Homo sapiens: one gene and its partners. The protein of the gene in region 1 purifies or fractionates together with the protein of each later gene. This does not show direct contact. Each region holds a gene or a part of one and is shown in the gene's direction. Other genes may lie near its edges. The genes, in order: MAS1, SLC35G2, SFXN5, SPG7, TUBGCP2, PDS5B and ITPRIP.

Evidence for each region.
Region 2: the proteins of MAS1 (region 1) and SLC35G2 purify together in Homo sapiens (affinity purification with mass spectrometry; 2 studies listed by BioGRID and IntAct, with this or other methods). This does not show direct contact.
Region 3: the proteins of MAS1 (region 1) and SFXN5 purify together in Homo sapiens (affinity purification with mass spectrometry; 2 studies listed by BioGRID and IntAct, with this or other methods). This does not show direct contact.
Region 4: the proteins of MAS1 (region 1) and SPG7 purify together in Homo sapiens (affinity purification with mass spectrometry; 2 studies listed by BioGRID and IntAct, with this or other methods). This does not show direct contact.
Region 5: the proteins of MAS1 (region 1) and TUBGCP2 purify together in Homo sapiens (affinity purification with mass spectrometry; 2 studies listed by BioGRID and IntAct, with this or other methods). This does not show direct contact.
Region 6: the proteins of MAS1 (region 1) and PDS5B purify together in Homo sapiens (affinity purification with mass spectrometry; 2 studies listed by BioGRID and IntAct, with this or other methods). This does not show direct contact.
Region 7: the proteins of MAS1 (region 1) and ITPRIP purify together in Homo sapiens (affinity purification with mass spectrometry; 2 studies listed by BioGRID and IntAct, with this or other methods). This does not show direct contact.

What each region holds. Positions count from the first base shown.
Region 1 is NC_000006.12:159,893,988-159,897,487, forward strand, and holds part of MAS1 (proto-oncogene Mas), read left to right. Parts: intron 1-3,500. UniProt on the Homo sapiens protein: Receptor for angiotensin 1-7. Acts specifically as a functional antagonist of AGTR1 (angiotensin-2 type 1 receptor), although it up-regulates AGTR1 receptor levels.
Region 2 is NC_000003.12:136,817,902-136,821,925, forward strand, and holds the start of SLC35G2 (solute carrier family 35 member G2), read left to right. Parts: upstream 1-1,224; 5' UTR 1,225-1,727; exon of another isoform or gene 1,728-2,611; intron 2,612-4,024.
Region 3 is NC_000002.12:72,960,213-72,963,712, reverse strand, and holds part of SFXN5 (sideroflexin-5), read left to right. Parts: intron 1-2,464; coding exon 2,465-2,582; intron 2,583-3,500. UniProt on the Homo sapiens protein: Mitochondrial amino-acid transporter. Transports citrate. Does not act as a serine transporter: not able to mediate transport of serine into mitochondria.
Region 4 is NC_000016.10:89,553,403-89,555,834, forward strand, and holds part of SPG7 (mitochondrial inner membrane m-AAA protease component paraplegin isoform 1 precursor), read left to right. Parts: intron 1-391; coding exon 392-558; intron 559-1,083; coding exon 1,084-1,161; intron 1,162-2,432. UniProt on the Homo sapiens protein: Catalytic component of the m-AAA protease, a protease that plays a key role in proteostasis of inner mitochondrial membrane proteins, and which is essential for axonal and neuron development.
Region 5 is NC_000010.11:133,291,873-133,295,372, reverse strand, and holds part of TUBGCP2 (gamma-tubulin complex component 2), read left to right. Parts: intron 1-1,603; coding exon 1,604-1,811; intron 1,812-2,134; coding exon 2,135-2,334; intron 2,335-2,684; coding exon 2,685-2,874; intron 2,875-3,325; exon of another isoform or gene 3,326-3,500. UniProt on the Homo sapiens protein: Component of the gamma-tubulin ring complex (gTuRC) which mediates microtubule nucleation.
Region 6 is NC_000013.11:32,774,952-32,778,451, forward strand, and holds the end of PDS5B (sister chromatid cohesion protein PDS5 homolog B), read left to right. Parts: intron 1-65; coding exon 66-101; 3' UTR 102-3,068; downstream 3,069-3,500. UniProt on the Homo sapiens protein: Regulator of sister chromatid cohesion in mitosis which may stabilize cohesin complex association with chromatin. May couple sister chromatid cohesion during mitosis to DNA replication.
Region 7 is NC_000010.11:104,314,466-104,317,965, reverse strand, and holds part of ITPRIP (inositol 1,4,5-trisphosphate receptor-interacting protein precursor), read left to right. Parts: intron 1-1,901; coding exon of another isoform or gene 1,902-1,914; coding exon 1,915-3,500. UniProt on the Homo sapiens protein: Enhances Ca(2+)-mediated inhibition of inositol 1,4,5-triphosphate receptor (ITPR) Ca(2+) release.

The sequences.
Region 1 (3,500 bases):
GTTGGATTGCTGTTTTGGCCCACTGAGACTGCTCTGCCACCTGATGAGGCTCAGTTGGAGATACCCAGGACATTTGGGTATATGGGTCTGACATGCTGGGGAGATGTGTGAGCTAAAGCTGTGCATTTGGATTTCATCAGAAAATGGTGATGGTTGAAATGGTGGGATTGAACAAGACCACCCAAGGAGAGTCTGTGGAGTAGGAAGGGAAGAGGGTCGAGAACGGAGCCTGCAGACTGGCCAACACGGCAAAACTCCGTTTCTACTAAAAATACCAAAAAATTAGTCAGATGTGGTGGCGGGTGCCTGTAGTCCCAGCTACTTGGGAGGCTGAGGCAGGAGAATCACTTGAACCCGGGAGGCGGAGGCTGAATTGAGTGGAGATGGCACCACTGCACTCCAGCCTGGGCGACAGAGTGAGACCCTGTCTCAAAAAAAAAAAAAAAAAAAAAGAATGGAGCCTGGTGGAACTCCAAGGTGCAAAGGGCAGTGTAAGAAGAGATCCAGCGAAGGAGAAAGAAGAAGAACTGCAGGAAAGCAGGAGGAGAGCCAGAGGGAAGAAATATGCTAGGCTCTGGCATCATCTCGGAGACAAGAGGCGAGGAGACGTGAAGTGGGGTTCCATAGCAACATTCATGCATTGGGGAGGGGCTCGAGCCCCAGATCTTGTCTCACCTGCTTCTAGAGGACTTGGCTGAGAGCGCTGCGCTGTTGAATGCACTGGCTCCTTTCTCTTATTTGTTCTGATGAAAGGACATGCCTGAATTGCCCCCTCTGACATCAATTATCTTTACCCATAATGGTGAAGCATGGTGTCCTTCATCAATAGATGTGTTTATTGATAATAGTGATAGCTAGGAGCCACTCTGTTTCACAGAAGAAAGTGAAAACAGAGACAATATTTCTGAAAACAACTCATTCCTGTGTGTTTGTGTTGTTTTGGTTATGGGTTTGGTATTGGGTAGGTGGTGCTTTAATAAATAAAAATCCATTCTTTGATAAATAAGATCCATCCTTTGATAAATTAAAAACTCCATCTTTTAAGGATCTTAATTACTAACAACCCAGTTGATTGTGCGGTTGCTTCTGGCGACATAAAAGCCGTTAATAAATGTTCCAAAAGTCCTGACAGCCCCATGAATGGGTGTGTGAACTTCACACATAGACGGACTGTTGACAATGAGCTGGTGTGTGTGTATGTTGGGTGGGGCAGGGGAGGGCTAGAAATAGTGCCAATTTGGACCTGGGGCAATCCAGGCTCTGCTGCTGCCTTTGTTACTAAGTATGTAACCTTGGACTAGTCCTGAGTTAATTTCCTCACCTGGAAAAACAAGGGGGTGGTTTGCAGTATCTGCATGATTTTTTCAAGCTCTAAGTCTTAATGATCAGCACAGGATGGTCTGACTTTACCAATAAGAAAGTGTTTTTAAGAAAACTCCAAGCCGCATCCTTTCATGTCTTTTATAAAATACTCCAGTTGCTGGGGAAAAATATAACATATACATATGTTGTAACGTATAACATATAACAAATTGCCATATTTACAAATGTTTCTTGCAGTTCAATAAAAGAAATGGACATAGAGTATGAAAAAACAATCCATCAAAAAATACAAGTAACCGTTAACATAAAAGAATGTCCAACCTCATTAGGAATCAAATAAATGCAAATTAAAACAAGGTATCTTTTATCATCTATCAAATTTGGGAATTTAAGAAACTGAAGATGTTGTAGAAAAAGAAACATATATATGCTGTGAAAAAAACTTTATATACTGTTGATGTTGGTATTAATATAATTGGCATGGTTATTTTGGATGACAGTTTGTTAATACACATTTAAATCTTGAAGAACGTTTATACCCTTTGGTCTAGCAATTCCACTTTTAGAAATATGTCCTAGGGGAATAATTAGAGATGTGCACAAAATTTGCATCCATATGAATTCATTACGGTGCTTTGTTTTTAAAAATAGCGGTGAAAAATCAGCAGCAAATGGATATGTCCAAGGCTAGGGGATTATTAAAAATGAATAATGAAAGCTGGGCACAGAGGCTCACGCCTGTAATCCCAGCACTGCGGGAGGCCAAGACAGGAGAATCAGTTGAGTCCAAGAGTTTGAGACCATCCTGGGCAACATGGGAAAACCCTGTCTCTACAAAAAATACAAAAACTCAGCTGGCATGGTGGCAAGTGCTCTAGTCCCAGCTACCTGGGAGGCTCACTTAAGCCCAGGAGATAGAGGCTGCAGTGAGCTGTGATCTCACTGCTGCACTCCAGCCTGGTTGACAGGGTGAGACCCTGTCTCAAAATTATAAATATATAAATAAATAAACAAATAAATCATGAGACCTTCAGTTAGTGATACTGAAGTCATACTTTTAGAGTATATACTGACATGAGTAAATGTTTACAATATGATACTGAGTAAAAAAAGGTAGAAAGAAAGGATACCAAAAGATTATAAAATGCAATCTCAATTTTAAAAACGAGCGTGTGTAAGACATTGAACAAAGACCAATGGAATATCCTAAATGTTGAATCTGGTTAATTTTTAATAGTAGTTGTATGTGTGGATTTTCTGAATTTTCTTCAATGAGCACATACTGCTTTAAAATTAGAAGAAAGGCGATAAACATTTAAAAGAAAATATCCCCATTTTGTGTTAAGATTAAAGAGGCTATAAAATGAGCCCTGCTGGGACTGTAACTGCCTAAAGGGTTCTCTTTGCCTGCTGCCCAGACAGAGCCGATTTATCAAGACGGGGGAATTGCAATAGAGAAAGAGTTTAATTCATACAGAGCCAGCTAAACTAGAGACCAGAGTTTTACCACTCAAATCAGTCTCCCTGAAAATCCAGAGACTGGGTTTTTTTGTTTGTTTGTTTGTTTGTTTGTTTGTTTTTGAGACGGAGTCTTGATCTGTCACCCCGGCTGGAGTGCAGTGGCTCGTTCTTGGCTCACTGCAAGCTCCGCCTCTCGGGTTCACGCCATTCTCCTGCCTCAGCCTCCCAAGCAGCTGGGACTACAGGCGTCCGCCACCACGCCCGGCTAATTTTTCTGTATTTCTAGTAGAGACGGGGTTTCACCATGTTAGCCAGGATGGTCTCGATCTCCTGACCTTGTGATCCGCCCGCCTCGGCCTCCCAAAGTGCTGGGATTACAGGCCTGAGCCACCACCCCCGGCCGGAGACTGGGGTTTTTTTTAAGGATAATTTGGTGTGTAGGGCACCAGGGAATGTGGAGTGCTGATTGGTCAGGTTGGAGGATGAAGTCACAGGAAGTTCAAGCAGTTTGTTTTTGCGGTCTTCTGTTTCTGGGTGGGATCACAGAACCGGTTGAGGCAGATTATCTGTCTGAGTGGCACCAGCTGGTGCATCAGAATGCAGGGTCTGAAAAATGTCTTGAGCACAAATAACAGATTTTACAACAGTGATGTTATCCCTAGGAGTAATGGGGAGGTAGAGAATCTTGTGGCCTCTGGCTGCATGACTCCTAAACC
Region 2 (4,024 bases), on another chromosome or scaffold:
ACCTAAACTAGCACCCTCGGGCTATGGGGCCCAGTGGGGAGACCACCTAGCATGCTGGCTGCCTGGAGCCCAGGGAACTGTCAAGATGGCTCTGGAAGACTTCTCGCCTTTTAAAAGCCCCGTATTTCTTTTACATATATTTTTGTCCTCATGAATTTTGCCAACCGCAATGGACTAAAATCTATTATAGCGTCCTGGAAAGGTGGGGAAAAGATGGGATAGTTGAGGAGAGTTTAATGAAGGGACTATTTAAAAAGGTGTGGATGGGGTTAAAGGAAACCTCTGGGCGTCATTACCCACTCCAGGCCTGAAGGGGCAAGGGTAGTTAGTGGTAACCAGAACCTGGAGAAAACTGCAGGAGAGGGCCACAGGATGGGAGTAATGGCTTTCAGATGAAGAACATAGCCACTGCTAACAGGGTGGCCCGCTGGGGATGCAGGGGAGGTCCTGAATCACATCCTGCCTTCTGATCTGCAGGTGCCTCCCACTTGCCAAAACCAATTGAAAGCCAGATTATAGTTGACGTAGCCCATAAAGGTCAGTCCTGAGTCACAGAGCAGAGTGGAGAGTGGGTCTGAAGGGACAGAGGAAAAACCAGCAAGCACCTCCTGTTTTTTCCCACAGCCAGCACCTTGGTTCAGCCCTTACCCTTTCTTGCCTGTCCCCTGGACCCATCAAATCCACTGCTTTTAATGACCAGTCTGTTTCCAAGAGGCTATATTCATTCCACTTGGGACTGGGGCATATGCACTTGGGTAGAAGAACCAGCTGTGCAGTGTCAAGACCCTTCCCTCAGAGACCTTATCAGTAAAATGGCGGGTGGACTCGGGGATGCCCGAAGACTTTTCCGGACCACGATTTTCCGATGCTGGACACATATTTAAACATGAAGGAATAGACTTGCGACTTTTAAGCGCAAACAATGGGTGGAAATGGACAGAAACTGCCTCCGTGCCCACTTGCAGCGGACTACGTAGCCCTGGCAGACAGGCAATTGCTTCAAACAAGCGCCCTCCAAGGGCGTAAGCTAGAGGGGCCCGGGCGGGCGCTTTCCCGTGGACCCTCCCACCTCGCGGGTAGAGGAAGTCCTTCAGTTCAGGCACAACCCTGAGCGTCCCCCGCAGTCTCCAACTCCGGCGCCAGTCAGGTTGTGGGGTGGGGGCGGCGGAGGGCGGAGAGCGCAGGCGCAGAGTCCGCGCGGCGGCGCCCCTCTCCCTCCGCAGTACTCCGGGCAGCGCCCGCCTCGATTTTCCCAGGCGAGGGCACGCCCGCGTCAGTCGCCTCCGGGGCACCTTCCTCGCCACGACACGCAGGTAACCGGGCCCCGGGAGCCGGTCGGCGGCGGCGGACTGGGACCTTGATCCTGCCTGCCCGGCCGCCCGACAAGGGAATGAGAGCGGACCCCGAACTCCACACACCCGCGTTTAGCCGCCACACCTAAGGGGCACAACAGTCTTTTTGGGTAAGGGCCGGGCTGGGGGCGACGCGCCCCGCCCGCTTTGCAGACTTCGGGGTGCTCTGCACGACGCCTGAAAGGCCGCGGGGCCCGCATTTCTCTGTGCTGCCCTCCTGGAGAACCGGGACACGGGGACGGGAGGGCCAGCATCGGCTACGGCCCGGTTTCCCGTTTCTTTCCGCTGTCGCGTGTCTGGGCCCTCCTGCAGCGTCCATGATGAAGGCCAGGGGCTGTTGCTTTCCTCTCGCCCAGTAGCCAACCCAAGCAAGGGGTGAGTCACTGTGGCGTCATATGGGATCAATTTCAAATACAAGTTTTAAAAAAGGCTGGATGATTTTAGAAATATGGCCAAGAATTTGTATTTTCCATTACTCTCTTGTCTCATGTCCATGACTCTTGAACGCCAGTCTGTGGGCGCTGAGATTTTCGTGGTACATCGACGGTTTGTAGACATCTTTTCCCAAGGGAAGACGAGGGCAAGGGTTAGTGGAGGAAGGGCCTCGTCACGGCCGAGAGTGGCGGAGAAGGCTCAGGGCAAGTCCGCACAGCCTCCAGCAGCCACGGGGAGGAAAAGGCGAATCTTTCCTCACAGTGCTCTGGGCGCTGTAGAATTTCTACGCCACGTGCACCCATTTGGCCTCATTTGAGAGGAGGAGAGGGAAGAAGGGTCGCGCGGGCCGGCAGGAAAGAGACTCGTGTTGCGGCGGATGAAGGCTCAGCGCGGACCTGCATCTCGGGCCAGGTTTTCTTTCACCCGGCTCCGCGAGGAGCGAGGCGGAAAGCTCGGGTCCGAGTGTTGATCGAGGACCTGGAGATAGTAACCCCCCACGTCCAGAGTGCTGGGGGTGGGTCCAGAGGGCTGGGGGTAGGTCCAGAGGGCTGGGGGTAGCTCCGGAGGAGCGATCTTCCTCCGCGGGAAAGGACTTGGCTCAGGCTTGCCTATGTCCGTGGTGCTGAAGTGCCTCGCGCGCCCTCGTCGACTGACTTCCTGGGCCGCGGCCTGCGTTGCCCTTCTACTCTGCACCTTTGCCAAAAATAGCCCATCTCCATGGCTGGTGGCCAGAGTGGAGCAGGCCCAACACTGAAACTCTTTTCAGACAAGTTGAGGCTGGTTTCCTGAACATAACCCGAAAGCAAATGTGGCTTGCCTTGGAGGTACAGATAAGCATATGCATAACAGATTTTATTACCTATGAGAAAGTACACACCATGAGCGTAAACAGGAATTCTCACATATACTTATGAAAGATACAGGTATGTGCATTTACGCACAAACCTAACACACATGCAAATACACTCATCCCTTTTGAAAACCATTACACACTACAAGCCACACATTTTTTAGAGCTTTTGTAATCCATCTTTATTTTTTGACACTTCTAGTAAATGTGAACTCTGCAGAGCCATTTATTTTCATAATCATCTGTTCCAAAGGCACAGAGCCTGTGGATTGAAGTGTTTGGTATTTGGCTGAGCAATTAAGTATTTATACTCATTTACATTCCAGAACAAAAGTCTAGGAAGATGTAAAATTGATATTGATACCAAAAAAATTCCTTAAAGAAAGCTTAAGGAAAATGAATTAATGTAAATTTTAATAAGAACAACATATAAATAATCATAGAAATTTATAATCTTAACATATGACTAAAATGTATCATAATGCAGACAATTTTAAATATATTGGTGGTATGTGGTTTGTGTGAAGTTCTTAAAGTTTACATTTGTATTTTTCAAAAACATTGGTATTGTTTTTTCCTTAAAAAATATATGCTCATTATAAGAATTTTAGGTAATAGAGAAATGCATAAACATAGAAAACCATTGTAAACAGATTTTCATTTAGATGAACATGCATACATTTTAAATGGACCAATCCTCTATTGGTTGCGTTTTTGCTATATAATTTATAATTAATGTCTTTCATCATAAAACTAGGTCATCATTATTAAGGGTTGCATAATATTGATCTGTGTGGATAGAATGTAAGTTTTTTAAACAATCCCATAATGAACATTTATGTCCAATTTTTTAGACTTAAAAAAATTATTGTGGAAAGAATATGTAACATGAGATCTATCCTCTGAACAAAAAAAAAATTTTTTTTTGAGACATTGTCTTGCTTGTTGCCCAGACTGGAGTGCAGTGACGTGCTCTCCGCTCACTGCAACCTCTGCCTCCCGGGTTCAAGGGATTCTCCTGCCTCAGCCTCTTGAGTAGCTGGCCACCGCACCCAGCTAGTTTTTATATTTTTAGTAGAGACAGGGTTTTACCATGTTGGCCAGGCTGGTCTTGAACTCCTGTCCTCAGGTTATCTGCCTGCCTTGGCTTCCCAAAGTGCCAGGATTACAGGCGTATGCCACTGCACCCGGGCCTGCCTTCTTAACAAAATTTTACGTGTATAATACATTATTGTTGATATGTATTGTTGATAGGTGCAATGCTGTATAGCAGATCTTTAGAGCTTATGCATCTTGCTTGACTGAGACTTTATGCCTGTTGATTAATAACTCCTGATTTTCCCCTGCCCTCCAGTCCCTGGAAACCACCATTCTACTCCTCGATTCT
Region 3 (3,500 bases), on another chromosome or scaffold:
TCTGAGTTGGCTCCGGGCCCAGGCCACAGCCCTGAGTCCGCTCCCCCAGCTTCCTTTACTCCCTGGGCTCCAGGTCTTTCCTTTCTCCCAGGCATTCGCACATCTCTCCATCTACATATTTTAACTCCCCCAGCTGCCTTTCCCTTCCCTCCTTGCCATTTTCCTCCCCCCTCCCTTCCCCCTGTCCTACTGTGTTCGCTCTCAGGCCTGCTCTGGGCTGGGGCTTCCGAGGCTCCTGTTTCAGCCTCAGGCCTGACTCCTTCCTGAGCTGGGAGCCCAGGCCTCAGACTTCTTGGACCTCTTTCCCACTGAGTACTTCAGCCAGCCACCCTGAGAGAGGAGCCTTGGTCACAGCCCCACAGAAAGGGGGTCTGTCTAGTGTCCCCACCAGCAGGTCCCAAGGACTGAGCCCATGGCCTGCTCTTCACTTGCCGGGGGTAGCGTCTCTCTTTCTTTTTCTCACCCTTCACTGCTCTCAGGGCTGTGGGCAGGGACCCTCGGGGCTGTGCTTCCAGGGACTCCACACCCTCTAGTCACTGCCACTGGAACAGGAGGGCAGCCCCGTCCTTCCACAGCCTCCTCCAAGCAGGGCCTCCAGACTCTGTATGAAGCTTGGAGAATGAGCCTTGTATCCCCCGCTCCTCATCTTGCTTGAGAAGTTCATCTCAGGGCCCTCTCAGCCTTACTCCCAGCCCCTCCACGACCCCTAAGGAAGTCCAGGCGGGCATGGGCTAGCATGGAGTAGAGAGAGAGGGTGGGGGTGCTGGATGGGGATTGGAGGATCAGAGGGGTTTGGGCTTGATTTAGGCACCTTGGTCCTACTGCTCAATCCTGTGGAAACTCCCCTTTCCAATAGCTTAATTCAGGCCGGATTTAGCAGCTGGACAAACCTTGCGGTCTGGGCCTGTGGGAAGGACTGGAAGACAGGTGGGCTACCAGGATCCTACCTTCCCGCAGGTAACATGAGCAATAACAACAGCAATAATGACACATAATTTCTGAGCACTTACTGTGTGCCAGGCCAGGGCTCACCCTTTTACTTGCATAGGATTTGCAAGTAATGGGATCTTTATTAATACCTGAGCAGGAACATCCAGGGCCAGGGTTTATCAGAAGTGTGGTCTGGGATCACCATTTTAGACTCATGGAGGGTTAAAATGCACATTTCCAGGTCCAGTGCCCACTGAATCAGGCTTTCATGGTTGTAAGCAACCCTTGGGCATTTGCATTTTTAACCAGTTGCCCAGTCCAGCTGATGCACTTTAACTTTTGAAAACTACTCCCAATTTTGCTGTCTTCTCAGGGCCAGTTGCTGTTGGGATTCTTGTCTCAAGAGGTGACAGTATATGGGGTTTACTGCCCGCCACATTGGGGCTCTGCCCCTAGGAGGGCCCCTTACCTGCCTGTGGCATGGTCAGCCCTGCTGGGGGCGGCGGATAAGAGCCTGGATTATTTCCCCTTCACACCAGGAGCCTGTCACTTGGAGGCTAACAGTTACTGAGGTCAGATTTAGTGCCTGCCCAACACCCCCTGGCAAATAGTCTAGTCATCCCAGGCCTCCCCAGGTGGAATGCTGTGGTCCCCGCTGAAGGGCCTGCTGTATTGAGCAAAACAGGAAGCTCCGATGAACACAGTGCAGGCACATTGGCCAGCTGGTATGTCCCCACGCTGTCTGGGGAGCCTGGGCCCCAAAGGGAGGTTTATCATGCCCCCTCCCCTGCCCAGGAAACCAGCTCCGAAGCCAGCCATGGGAAGAGGGTGCCAGCTGTGTTGTGTTGGTGATGAAGCTGGCACAGGGGACCAGCTGGGGTGACAGCACCCTCGGGGAGCCAGGGGTCCAGGCAGCAGCTCTGACAGCCTCCTGCAGACTTGGCCTTGGACGAGTCATTGCACCCTCTGTTGCCCTTGGGTTGAAATTGACAAGGTGGCCAGTGGGGTGTCTTCTGTTCTCACACATAGAGGAGGATCACCCCCTCCTGGCTGGCGTGTGCCCATATGTATGTGCTTTGTCATCTCCCCTGAACTTGGCACCTACTCTGGTTTCTTTGCTGTTTAATTACGTGCTGCCCTCGAGAGCGATCTTACGTCCCTATGTGTCTCCCCAGGAACAGGGGCCGACAGCCTCTTTGAGTGTCTCTCCCACATAGGGCCTTCTTGGCACGGGGCTGGACGCGTGGCGGGTGGGTGCCCCGAAAGTACTCATTCGTGACCTGAGTAATTGAGGTTTCAGCCAGCAACGTCCTTCAAGACATTGGGATAGGGGTCTATACCCGCTGGGATAGGGGTACCTATCGGGAAAAGGTCCCAAAGACAGAACTCTGCTATATCTGTTTAGCTGCACACTGGCACTGCCCCGGAACCACGCTTCCTGGGCCCAGAGACAGAGTGGGACCCAGCATGGTGGCTGGCAGCCAGCCCACCCCACCTTCGGGTCTCATGGGGCTCCCTCCTCTCTCCCTCACAGGACGGCTCTCCTGCAGGCACGCCCCCGGCTGCTCCTCCCTGTGCAAAGCCTCGTGTGCCTGGCAGCCTTCGGCCTGGCCCTGCCGCTGGCCATCAGCCTCTTCCCGCAAATGTCAGAGGTCAGTGGGGAGGGGCTCAAGGGCAGGGCAGGGCAGGGGGTGCTGTTTGGTGATTTCTGAACAAATACTCATACCGTGCCGACTCCTTAGCGCCATGCTAGGCGCTGGGGCTGGAACCGTGAATGAGGCTGGCCCAGGCTCTGGCCCTCAGAGTGAGGGTCACGCAGTCAACAGGGTGATTAAACAGAGGCCAGCAGATGAGGAGCCAGGAGCGTTAGGGTGGGAGAAGCTCCACTGGGTGTGGAAGGAGACAGCAGACCAAACTGAGCCTAGAGGGAAGTGACATTTCACTGGGACTGGGAGCGTGGCTGGAGTTGGCCAGATGAAAAGGGGTGGCGGGGGGAGATGTGAGGTCCGCGGACACCTGGTGTGAAGGTTCTGAGAGGTGAGGCAGCACACGCCATGTCCAAGAGCTGACCAAAGTCTGCAGCGCAACCAGGGAGTGCAGCAAGGTGATGTGGCCTGGGAATGAGGGGCTGGGCTGGGTGGTGTTGGGAACTTGGAAGCCAGAACAGAGAGGGTGAATGTCCTCCTAAGGGCTGTGCAGGGCAGACCACAGATGCCTGATTCTGAGCGGCCCCTGTGCTGCCGCGTGGGGCTGGGTTAGAGCTCCAGAGAAGGAACCATCAGGAGCCTGTGGCGGGCATCCAGCAAGCGGTGATGGCGGCTTGGACCAGGCTGTTGGCAGTGGGCATGGAGAGAAGTGGGTCCCTAAAGAGGGAGTCAGGAGGCGGCTTCTTCGGGATTCGATGAAGAGCTGTATGTGGTGGGAGGGAACGGGAGCCAGAGGATGTGCACTGGCTTTCTGGTTTTGAACAACCAGGCAGATGTAGGTGCTTAATGAGATGGAGCCAGGCGGGGGCAGGTTCGAGGGAGGGCAGTGGGTCAGTTGGATGGACACGCGGGGTTGAGGAGCCT
Region 4 (2,432 bases), on another chromosome or scaffold:
TAAAATTGAAGCGGCTTCATTGTTCTGAAGCCATTACTGCACTGGGATATCCAGAGAGCTGAAGGAGGGTCCCGGGGGCCCCTGGGCTCCAGGTCCATGGGTTTGCCTCGCATAGGCCTGGGCTTGTGCTTGAGAACTGCCATGCAGTGAGCTCCAGTATGCCCCCGGGTTCTAGATTTCCAAATAAAAGAGCATTTCGGAAAGTTTTAAGACTCTCTTAAGGAACAGTGGTGAGGTGCCAACGTCCTCACTGTCCAGCTTCACGGTGGGTCCTCGGGAGGAAGGGGATGGAGGTGGTGCTGCCTCAGTGCTCTGACCGGGACACCTGGGGCCCAGCACTGCTCTGCGCCTGCAGTGCTGAGGATGCCTCTGTCTCGACCCCGCCCTCCAGGGGCACAGGACGACCTGAGGAAGGTCACCCGCATCGCCTACTCCATGGTGAAGCAGTTTGGGATGGCACCTGGCATCGGGCCCATCTCCTTCCCTGAGGCGCAGGAGGGCCTCATGGGCATCGGGCGGCGCCCCTTCAGCCAAGGCCTGCAGCAGATGATGGACCATGTGAGTCGGCTCTGGCCACACCGCTGCCCTCTGTGCTCCCCGGGGAGGGAGTCCCTGGGTCTACCACACAAGGGTCGCCCACGGCCGCCCCAGCGGAGCTCAGCTGCAGGCCCCACCTGGGTTTCTTCCTTCTGGGCTCTGCTGTAGTTCCCACCTGTGGAGTATTTTCTTCTCAAATGAGGACATAGATGCTCCTAATGAAATTATAGATGTGAATCTGGGAAGAATATCAAATAAATACACCGAGCAATAGACCCAGGGCCCACATGTCCTTCAGACTGGGCCAGGAAGGGCCGATGTGTGCCTGTGAGGCAGCTGTGGGTGGGTGTGGGTGGGTGGGCTGGCATGCGGAGCCCTGCTTTCCTGGCACTGGTCACAGGGGCAGGAGACCACCTGTCGGCTGAGGAGTCCTGTTCCTCCTGGGAGGGGAAAGGCCGTGTTCCCAGTCTGCCATTTCTTTTCTGTGCTTTGGTGCTGGAGCCAGGCGGCCAGCCTTGCCCCTGACACAGTTCCCTCCACTCACAGGAAGCAAGACTGCTGGTGGCCAAGGCCTACAGACACACCGAGAAGGTGCTGCAGGACAACCTGGACAAGTTGCAGGCGGTGAGGCCCTGGCCAGGCGTGGGGGCTACGGCGTCACACAGTGTCCACACAGCACCCACGGTCCCCACCCCTCTCGTGAAGTATTTCCAAGGCACACAGAGTACAGAGAACACTCTGACCGATGTGAATTCTACCCAGCTCAACTGAAACTTACGTGTTCCATACTTTTTATCCTGAACTCGTCAAGTGTGTTCCCCCGAGGTAGAAAGAAGGCTGCCACAGTCTCCTGTGCCTCTTCCTGCCATTAGCAATTACCAATGTTTTGTCAGTTTTGTTTAATCTTTTCCCAAGTCTTACACTTTTTTCTTGAACATTTTTTTAAAACAAAGCTTTAATTTTAGAGTAGGAATTTTTTTTTCTTTTTTTTTTTGAGACAAAGTCTTGCTCTGTCACCCAGGCTGGAGTGCGATGGCGACATCTTGGCTCACTGCAACCTCTGCCTCCCGGGTTCCAGTGATTCTCCTGCCTCAGCCTCCCGAGTAGCTGCGACTGCAGGCATGCACCAACACACTCGGCTTTTCTTTTTTTTTTTTTTTTGAGATGGAGTCTCTCTCTGTCACGAGGCTGGAGTGCAGTGGTGCAATCTCAGCTTACTGCCACCTCCACCTCCCCAGTTCAAGCATTCTCCTGTCTCAGCCTCCCAAGTGTCTGGGATTACAGGCACGCGTCACCATGCCCAGCTAATTTTTGTATTTTTAGTAGAGGTGGGGTTTTACCACATTGGCCAGGCTGGTCTTGAACTCCTGACCTCAGGTGATCCGCCTGCCTCGGCCTCCCCAAGTGTTGGGATTACAGGCGTGAGCCACAGCCCCACGCTGATTATAGTGTTAGATGTAGAAAAGTTGCAGGCGCGGTGCAGAGAGCTCCCTGCCACCCTGCCTCGCTCCCGTGGAGGCCCCCATGGGGCAGTCCTCCCACCTGAGGAGCCCCCGCCGACCCGCGGTGTTGGGTCCACACGTGATTCAGATGTGCTGAGTCTCCCCAGTGTCCTTTCCGGTCTTGGGAGTCCACATGGCGTTTGATCGCCCATCTTCTTAGGCTCCTCTGGGGTGACAGTTCCTCAGACCTCCCTTGTTTTGAGGGCTCTGGCAGTTTTGAGGATTGGTCTCATGTTTTGTAGGACGTTCCTCAGTTGCGATTGTCTGATGTGTTTCTCACAGTGGGCAGAGCTGGAGTGAACGTTTTTGTCCCTGGGTTTGGTAACTGCTGCTTAGAACTCAGGAGAGGTGCACGGCTCTTTGTCCCATGTTGTGAACAGATGGGTAGGCAGT
Region 5 (3,500 bases), on another chromosome or scaffold:
CAAGCTCAGGTGATTCTCCCACCTCAGCCTCCCGAGTAGCTGGGACTGCAGGTGTGCACCATCACACGCAGCTAATTTCTGTATTTTCAGTAGAGACGGGGATTCGCCGTGTTGCCCAGGCTGGTCTTGAACTCCTGGAGTCAAGCGATCTGTCCACCTTGGCCTCCTAAAGTGATGGGATTACAGGTGTGAGCCACCATACCCGGCCTAAAGCAACCCTTGAGGTCCCTCCACAGCCAGGCGGCTGGATCCACACTAACCCCCACCCCACGGCACCTCCACCCCACCGTGAGGCTTCTCCCCACAAGGGCATTGGCCGAGGCTTCGTGGCTGTGGATGAATGAGGCCAACATGGTGGAAAGTAAGTGATGCAGAGTCAGAGGCAGTTCCTGGAAGATGCACTCGCTGTTCCCAAAACGCCAAGCCACACCCACTCCTTTAGGGATGGTAGACATTGGGGTCTCGGTTTTATTGGTCATCCTGAGAAGGCCACTGGAGTAATAGAAAGAAATGGAATTTGAAGTTGAAAAGTGTAGATCTGCCAGCCTGGGCAACACGGCAAGACCCCACCTTTACAAAAAATTTAAAAATTAGCCAGGAATGGTGGCACGTGCCAGTGGTCCCAGCTCCGAGGGAGACTAAGGATACAGGATCGCTTGAGCCTGGGTGCTCAAGGCTGCAGTGAGCTGAGATTGCACCACTGCCCTCCAGACTGGGTGACAGAGTGAGATTTGTCTCAAAAATAAAAAAAGGAAAAAAAAAAAACAAGGACAGTGTGGATCTGCATCAGGATTGAGGCTTTCGCTGAAGGGCTTGCGTTGGTGACGGATTGTAGTCTTGAGGCCTGCAGTCACAGGACACTTCCCAGCAGATGTGTGAGGCTGACAGAGTGATTTTGTAAACCGAAAGCCTGTTGTACGGAGCCTTCCTGAGCTGCCAGGGCCTGGTTTGGGTATGGTCTGGCTGGCACGGGGCCCTGTCAGGCCCTCGTGGGGACAGTTTCAACATCCTGCTTTCGTCTGGTGCTCCTCCCGGCCCCCCAGGCATGGCCCGCCTGAGGCTGTGGACTGAGAACTTGGTCCTGGGACCTGAGGGGTTTGGTGGGTGGCGGCCCGTGGCCGTCCTCGTGAGGAAGCTTAGCTGTGTGTCCTGCAGCCGTCTCATCCTCTCTGGATAGAAATTATCAAGAGTTTCTTAACGTTTAAGTGATAGCTTTTTAAAGACAAGGTTTTTTGTCCCAGAGTAACTCAGACTTACCAAGTTGTACTTACCAATGTTGAAAGTGCAGCTTCTGCTGGAGTCGCCTTTTCAACTCCTAACTTCACCTTTTCAAATGTCAGCCATGTATCTGAGCATTGCGGAGCCGAGTGTGGTGAGATCTTGACACCAGCCACCACGCCTCCCAGGCCGGCCCCGTCCTGCGGCGGTTGGAACTCAGCCTGTGGCTCCCCAGTGGGGTCAGTCAAAGCCAAGTGCAGTGGCTGACCTTTTATACCCATAAACAAAGATGAGCAAGAGTGAGACTGACCCGCAGATGAGGGCACGTGGCTGTGGGGGCATGGGAGTGGGGGCTGCAGAGCCACAGCGCTGTCTGTGCCCGCAGGCACGTTGCCCCTGGCCTCGCAGGAGTCGGCCGTGGTGGAGGACCTGCTGTACGTGCTGGTGGGCGTGGACGGGAGGTACGTCAGTGCTCAGCCCCTGGCTGGGAGGCAGAGCCGGACCTTCCTCGTGGACCCCAACCTGGACCTGTCCATCAGGGAGCTGGTGCACAGGATCCTCCCAGTGGCCGCCAGCTACTCCGCTGTGACCAGGTGGGCACCGGGCGCGGTCCCTGGGAGCCTGCGCTGTTGTGGGGGAGGGGTTAGGTCCCATCCTGATGACCATGGGGACGTCTGCATCGCTTCTAAAGAGAGCGCCCGCCTTGGTGACAACTCCGTGCCCAACTCAGTTTTGGAGGGTCTGTGAGTCACCATCCAGGGTCCTGACTCATCTCCTCCTGGGGCAAAAGTTCCCCTCTGGGATGTGGGGTTCAAGTGAGTCATTTGCTTCCTGTTTGGGATGAGACTCAGAATATCGGACATTGTATGTGCCTGCAGCTTGCCTTTTTGAGGAAGTCTGACAGCTTTTCTTCCAGGTTCATTGAAGAGAAGTCTTCCTTCGAGTACGGGCAGGTGAACCACGCCCTGGCGGCCGCCATGCGCACCCTGGTGAAGGAGCACCTGATTCTGGTGTCACAGCTGGAGCAGCTGCACAGGCAGGGCCTCCTTTCGCTGCAGAAGCTCTGGTTCTACATCCAGCCAGCCATGCGCACCATGGACATCCTGGCCTCCCTCGGTGCGTGCCCGCCCGGGGGGCATGGGGCAGTGGTGGGTGGCAGGTGTTGAACATGGCACCCAGTGTGAGGAGAGACTCTGCAGGGGCCGTGGAGCAGCTGCCCAGGGCAGGGGCGTGTGGCCAAAGCTCATGTTGCTCCATGTGCTATTAACTTGCAAGAGGAAAGCCCTGGAAGCTCTTACTGGTCAGCTGAAATCAGCAACTACAACCTTACAGTTAATACGTATCCCAAAGAAGCAGCACCGTCCCAGGAAGAAGGTTGGAGAAGCATGAGGGGCCCCAGCAGTGTTGTTGGCAGAGGCTGGGCGTGCGCTTCCTTCTCAGCAGTGAGCCCTCCTTTCTCCCCACAGCCACCTCGGTGGACAAAGGCGAATGTCTTGGGGGGTCCACGCTGAGCCTGCTCCACGACAGGAGCTTCAGCTACACAGGGGACAGCCAGGCGCAGGAGCTATGCCTGTACCTAACCAAGGCGGCCAGTGCTCCCTACTTCGAGGTTCTGGAGAAGTGGATCTACAGGGGCATCATCCACGACCCATACAGGTAGGGCTCCCCGGGACACGGGGACACGGAGGGACACGGGGACACGGAGGGACATGGGGGACACGGAGTGTGCATGCTGCCCTCTCCCGTACAGGTAGGGCTCCCCGGGACACGGGGACACGGGGGACACGGAGGGACACGGGGGACACGGAGTGTGCATGCTGCCCTCTCCCGTACAGGTAGGGCTCCCCGGGACACGGGGACATGGGGGACACGGAGGGACACGGGGGACACGGAGTGTGCATGCTGCCCTCTCCCGTACAGGTAGGGCTCCCCGGGACACGGGGACATGGGGGACACGGAGGGACACGGGGGACACGGAGTGTGCATGCTGCCCTCTCCCGTACAGGTAGGGCTCCCCGGGACACGGGGACATGGGGGACATGGGGGACACGGAGGGACACGGAGGGACACGGAGGGACACGGGGGACACGGAGGGACATGGGGGACACGGAGGGACACGGAGGGACACAGAGGGACATGGGGGACACGGAGGGTGCGTGCTGCCCTCTCCCGTACAGGTAGGGCTCCCCGGGACACGGGGACACGGAGGGACACGGAGGGACATGGGGGACACGGAGGGACATGGGGGACACGGACGGTGCATGCTGCCCTCTCCCGTACAG
Region 6 (3,500 bases), on another chromosome or scaffold:
GATTACTGCATATCTTATGCACATATACCCATTTTAATTAAGCATCTGGTGACTTTCCTTTTAAGGTACGGCGGCGAAGTGCTAAAAGGGAACGGCGATGAACAAATGTAATTAATAACTTTCTCTGTGAAAGCTTTGGAAAAATCTTTTTTTTTTTTTTTGGTCAAGCTTGAGGCTGAATAAAGCCTTTGATGCACAAAATGGGACTGCTGAAGAGTGGACAGTTGGACCTTACTTTGGTGACCCCATACATTTGTGGTCACATGCTTTAGCCATACACATGGTAACATTGACTATGGAGTCTTGTGAAAGTGTAATGTGCGATGGCTATGTAGACATAAAGAAGAAACTTGTAAATATCTTTTTTCTTTTTTTTAATGTTTCTGATTTCTGAAGTGCTTGTATAGCTTTTATCTGCGGCTTTAAACTGACAGTACCCGACTGTTTATTGGATCTATTGATTTGAAAAGAATTTGTTAGGATAGATCTTAAGCAGTAATCTGTCAGTGTTTGTATTTGTATTCTCTGCAATTTTACTGTGAAAAAAAATTTGTTTTCAACAATTGGTGTCATTTTCTTGATGTCACTATTTGTTGGAGAGTTAAATGGTCTCTTCCCTTTGTGTATCTTACCTAGTGTTTACTCCTGGGCACCCTTAATCTTCAGAGGTGCTAAATTGTCTGCCATTACACCAGAAGGATGCCTCTGATAGGAGGACAACCATGCAAATTGTGAAATAGTCCTGAAGTTCTTGGATTACTTTACACCTCAGTATTGATTTGTCCCAGAATTTTCTGGCCTTTCATGGCAATGAAAATTTTAAGAAGAAAGATTTAAAGTATTTTAATTTTAAAGAGTGTGTTATAAAATAATGTACTGAATTCTTTATCCCATTTTATCATCCTTTCAGTTTTTATTAATCTACTGTATCAATAAAATTCTGTAATTTGAATGAGTTTTTAATAGTCTAGAATGTTATTGTGTATAGATATTTCCTCTTGAACGTTATGTTCAGAAAATGCAAATTACACTATAATATAAAACCTGATATATACACATTAGAAATATTCCAGTTCTCCGTAACAGTGTAAAGTTAATCAGAAAGAAAAAATTTTATTGATGCAGTGTGTCTTTATAAAGCTGTTCTTGAAAGCCAAGTGTTTTGTATTTTATAGTGAGTTGCATGTTTTTGAAAAAAAGTGCTGAAAATGGGATGTGCTGTTTTCTGTAAATTCATATTTAGCCATAGTATATGATAGATTGCCCCATAACATAGTTTTTCATCAAGAGTTTATTATTGTACTTTATTTTGGAGCCAAAAAATTGATTCTGGGGGGTGGGGGCAGCGTAGAAGTGGTATATCCAAGTATATCAGCTACTGTAGTTGTCACAGTCTTGTGAACTTTGAATGAAATTCCACTTTGTCCAGATTGGGAGAAGTGGAAATTTATTTGGATTTAGAGCAGGTCTTTTTTTTTCTTCATTGTAATCTGCAAAATGTAGAAATAAATTACTTAAGGCAGTATCCTTTATACAGTTGTATAAACTGTATTTTGAACCAAAACATATAGGTTACTACTTAATGCTTACCTAATTTCATTTTAGTATTTTAGGTGCTGTTATGTTTTTTCATGGTTAACACCAGAGGGGAAAAAATCATATTCTAACTTATTAAATTTATCACATTGAATAGTGGAACATTTTCATATGATACACCATTATGTTTAAGATATATTTCCAAGATTGGTTATAATAGATGGGGCATATAATAAAGAAGCTACTATTTTGGAAAATGACATTTTACTATTTGCCAATGTATATTGCAATTGATGTGATTATTTTTCTTTTAAAGATTTGTTTGTGTTTATGAAACAGCCATTTATTTTTTAAAAAGTGTTTTGAATTGTGTCTTAATCTCTCCATATTCAACTATTCTTCATTTACAACAATAGTGACACCAGTAATTATGAGAGGCTGTCATATATCAAAGCAGCTCAGGTGGGATCAACATACATTGGTTTTGAAATGTTTCCTTAGCTCGGTTCTCCCAAACACATAATTTCTGTTTCAGCAGTACAAAGGCATGTTTTAAAATCTATAACATAAAGAATAAGGAATAGCTTTGTATTTTTGTCATTGATTAAATTGCACCAGAAATGTTTATGGAAATATTAAGAACATTTTATAAAACATACGAAAAAGTGATTGTGAAGGATTTTTATTTGCATGATTATAGTTAAGCAAATTTCATTTCACATTTTTGTAATGCTGTACAGCAGTTCACAAAAAAATGTTCATTGTAGATTTTGTTATGTTCAATGCCAATGAGTCTGTAATTTTACGACCTGTCTGTTCTTTTTTTGGGTGGATTACGATGTAAATTTTTCTTTTCTTTCTTTCTTTTTTTTTTTTTTTGTGTAGAAAAATAGGTGCAATAATGATCAAAGTTTTGATGTCTTGAGTCTCCATCTTAGGGGATTATCTTACGTTTAAGCTTAACATTTCATGTAGTAAGATTTGGAGAGCCACATACTTTACAGTAAAATTAAGTGTGTATAAAACATTAATTGCTAACAATTGTTAGCAAACTATTTCAGTGATAATGTTCATTTTGAAAATATGTACTGTATAACATTAAGAAAATATTTAACTCCCTGTAACAAGTTCCATTATGAAAATCTTATTCCTCAGTGAGGTTATCTTGCTGCACTCTGTAGCAAATTTGTTTAATCTACATTATAATAAAATTTCTTGCTGCAGTGCAACAGGAGGCTTTTTCAGTGATCTTCACTGTATATGTAAATTACAAATGTGGCTGTAAAACTTATTCCAGGTATTAAAGGTTAAATTGCTTTCTATATCTTCTTATAACTTGTAAGTCTGATTTTTAAGATTTCCTTTTGTCCACTTGTAAGAATGTCAGGAATTTAAGAATTTGTTTAAATTAGGCATATCTCTGCCATCACATAGTATTATGTCACCATAATGAACAATTGCTATTTAAATAGATAACCAATTTTCAGACACATTTTTGGATTTCTGTGAAGTTGAATAAACATAAAAGCTAATACAGTTGTATTATTTTGTGTATGTAAATCAACATATATATTTAAATACTAAATGGAGAAAGGCACATTTGATGATTTTTAATTTTGGAGCCTTTGTTTCATGAAGTGGAAACACGTCTCAGTAACTTTTTCCAAACCTTTTGTTTAAACTTCTCATGCAAAATGTTGGCGGACAGAGAATTCTAAGTATTATTTAAGTTGAATAATTGCGTAACTGAACAAAATAAATGTATAATATAAACTTTAAAAATAAGCACTAAATAAATAAGTTGCCAGTAGCAGTTTTATTAATTCGTTCAGCAAACATTTATTGAGTGCCTTCTATGTGCCAGGCACTCAAAAATTTTACTCAGTTTTGCAGAGGATAAAGTGTGATCAAGATAGTGTAAGTCCCTGCTTTTGTGGTACTTTCATTATGTTAGAGGTGGGTGA
Region 7 (3,500 bases), on another chromosome or scaffold:
AACCCTTGTGGTTCCTGCAGACCTGTCCAGCTGTGTATGGGGTGGAACTGTCTGAGTCACATCTGAGCAGCAAGTTTGTCTAGGCGTGACCAGCAGCCAACTCAGTCCATCTCCATCCTGCCACTTGCCAGGGACAACCTGCAGAGGTATCTTTACCTGGGGACAAATCCCTGTTCCTTGGCACCATTAGGACAAGAATTTCATTGTGCAAATTCCAGGTCGGGCTCAAGCCAAAGGGAATGGGGCTCAGGTTGGCACAGTAGCTCCTATCAGCCAGTGTTAGTGTGCACTAGGGGGTGGTAGAAGGAGCCCTGTGCTCTCAACAATCTCAGGACCTCAACTGATTTGCATTTGGCCATTTGCTTCCTTCATCGAGGTCCCAAGCAAGGAGGGGGGTAGTTCAAGTGTGGAAATAGCAGATTGTTAAGTCCCAGGATTCCTGCTGAGGAGAGGAGAGGGTGTAACTAAGTCTTGCAGCGTAAGACAGTGCCTCTCAGATTTTTATATGGATGGTATTAAAATGTGGATTCCGATTCAGTAAGTGTGGGTGGGGCCGAGATTCTGCATTTCTAACAAGCTCCCAGGAGATACTGCAGCTGCTGGTCCGTGAATCATACTTCGAATTGCAAAGATTGTAGGGATTAGCCTTTCTCCAAAAGTCACTTGAGGCTTAAAAATCCACTTATCCTAGGGGAACAGAGTGCCTCCTTTCACAATTAAGAAGTTAGATTTAAAGTTCACATGCCTGGTAAGAAGAAATTAGTGATTCTTTGCTCTCTGGTCATCATCAAGATTGTCCTGGGGAAAGACAAAAGCCAGGAGAGTGTGTCTGAATATGGGGTAAGGTCTTCCAGGTCAGAAAGAGACGTTTACAGAAGAGGAGGATAAGGGCTCAAATCTACTTCCGAAACAGTTATTGTTCAGTGAATATGTGCTTTGCACTGGTCACTGGGCCATGCAGTTTGCAGGGATCATTGCGTCTCTCAATACCATGACCCTGTGAGATACTATTGCTTTCCCCTTGTGCAGTAAGGAAACCAGGGCTCAGAGAGGTGTGTTAACATGCCCAGGGTCACACAGCTTTTCAGTTGACAGTGCTGGTTTGGAACCTAGCCCTTTCTCCCTTAACCACTAGGCTTCACTGTATTGCAGGAAGATGACATTCACTTGGGAGAGAAGGGGATATGTTATTCAGGACTATTTTGATTTCAAGTGGTGGAAAGGCCACTCAAACTGACTTAAAAAGGGTTTCTTTATTGACTTGTGTGACTAAAGAGCTCAGACAGCAATGCCTTCAAGCAGAGCTGAGTGTGGGGAGGGGGGGTTCTGCTTTCCTCTATGTTGGTGTCTTTCTCAGGCGGGCTCCCTTCCCGAGAGCCCACTGCAGGTATAATCCTGTTCCCTCAGCAACCTAGCAACCAAACTAGCAACAGGATGAGTCTTTCTTCCTATTGGGCCCAACACACCCTACATCTGTCTCTCATTGGCCCGAATTGGATCAAATGCTCATCCCAGAACCAATCGCTCTAGCTGTAGCTGGGCGGCAGAATGTCTGATTGTCTTGGGCCTGGGTTTTGAGCCCACCCCAGGAGCTTGGAGGTGGGTATATCCTCGCCCTGGCCATAAGGACTGGTAGGAGAAAAGGGTTAGGGACAGTGGGGTGCTGCTGCCATCCAGGAATGTCTGGGTAGGACTAAAACAGATGTCCACCCCAGGGTAGGCCTTTGGGGCTCTTCCATGGCTGGACTGAAGCTCCTGAGGCAGCCGCAGGGAGCTCTCGATGGGTTGGGTGGGAGAACTAAGACCTTAACCAGCCCTGAGGGGCTGAGGTTGGTGCGGGGCCCAGGGACGAAGTGGCATTGAGGGAAGCTTGGTGTGACCATCTGTCTCTCTGTTCCCAGGAAAGCTCCAACCATGGCCATGGGGCTCTTCCGCGTGTGTCTGGTGGTGGTGACGGCCATCATCAACCACCCGCTGCTGTTCCCGCGGGAGAACGCCACAGTCCCCGAGAACGAGGAGGAGATCATCCGCAAGATGCAGGCGCACCAGGAGAAGCTGCAGCTGGAGCAGTTGCGCCTGGAGGAGGAGGTGGCTCGGCTGGCGGCCGAAAAGGAGGCACTGGAGCAGGTGGCGGAGGAGGGCAGGCAGCAGAACGAGACACGCGTGGCCTGGGACCTCTGGAGCACCCTCTGCATGATCCTCTTCCTGATGATCGAGGTGTGGCGGCAGGACCACCAGGAGGGGCCCTCACCTGAGTGCCTGGGCGGTGAGGAGGATGAGCTGCCTGGGCTGGGGGGCGCCCCCTTGCAGGGCCTCACCCTGCCCAACAAGGCCACGCTTGGCCACTTTTATGAGCGCTGCATCCGGGGGGCCACGGCCGATGCAGCCCGTACCCGGGAGTTCCTGGAAGGCTTCGTGGATGACTTGCTGGAAGCCCTGAGGAGCCTCTGCAACCGGGACACCGACATGGAGGTGGAGGACTTCATTGGCGTGGACAGCATGTACGAGAACTGGCAGGTGGACAGGCCACTGCTGTGCCACCTTTTCGTGCCCTTCACACCCCCCGAGCCCTACCGCTTCCACCCAGAGCTCTGGTGCTCCGGCCGCTCAGTGCCCCTGGATCGCCAGGGCTACGGCCAGATCAAGGTGGTCCGCGCCGATGGGGACACATTGAGCTGCATCTGCGGCAAGACCAAGCTCGGGGAAGACATGCTGTGTCTCCTGCACGGCAGGAACAGCATGGCGCCTCCCTGCGGCGACATGGAGAACCTGCTGTGTGCCACAGATTCCCTGTACCTGGACACGATGCAGGTCATGAAGTGGTTCCAGACGGCCCTCACCAGAGCCTGGAAGGGCATCGCCCACAAGTACGAGTTCGACCTGGCCTTTGGCCAGCTGGACAGCCCGGGGTCCCTGAAGATCAAGTTCCGTTCAGGGAAGTTCATGCCCTTCAACCTGATTCCTGTGATCCAGTGTGATGACTCGGACCTGTACTTTGTCTCCCACCTTCCCAGGGAGCCCTCTGAGGGCACCCCAGCCTCCAGCACAGACTGGCTCCTGTCCTTTGCTGTCTATGAGCGACACTTCCTCAGGACGACACTAAAGGCACTGCCCGAGGGCGCCTGCCACCTCAGCTGCCTGCAGATAGCATCCTTCCTGCTCTCCAAGCAGAGCCGCCTGACCGGTCCCAGCGGGCTCAGCAGCTACCACCTGAAGACGGCCCTACTGCACCTCCTACTCCTCCGGCAGGCCGCCGACTGGAAGGCGGGGCAGCTGGACGCTCGTCTGCACGAGTTGCTGTGCTTCCTGGAGAAGAGCTTGCTCCAGAAGAAGCTCCACCACTTCTTCATCGGCAACCGCAAGGTGCCTGAGGCCATGGGACTCCCTGAGGCCGTGCTCAGGGCCGAGCCCCTCAACCTCTTCCGGCCCTTCGTCCTGCAGCGAAGCCTTTACCGTAAGACACTGGACTCCTTCTATGAGATGCTCAAGAATGCCCCAGC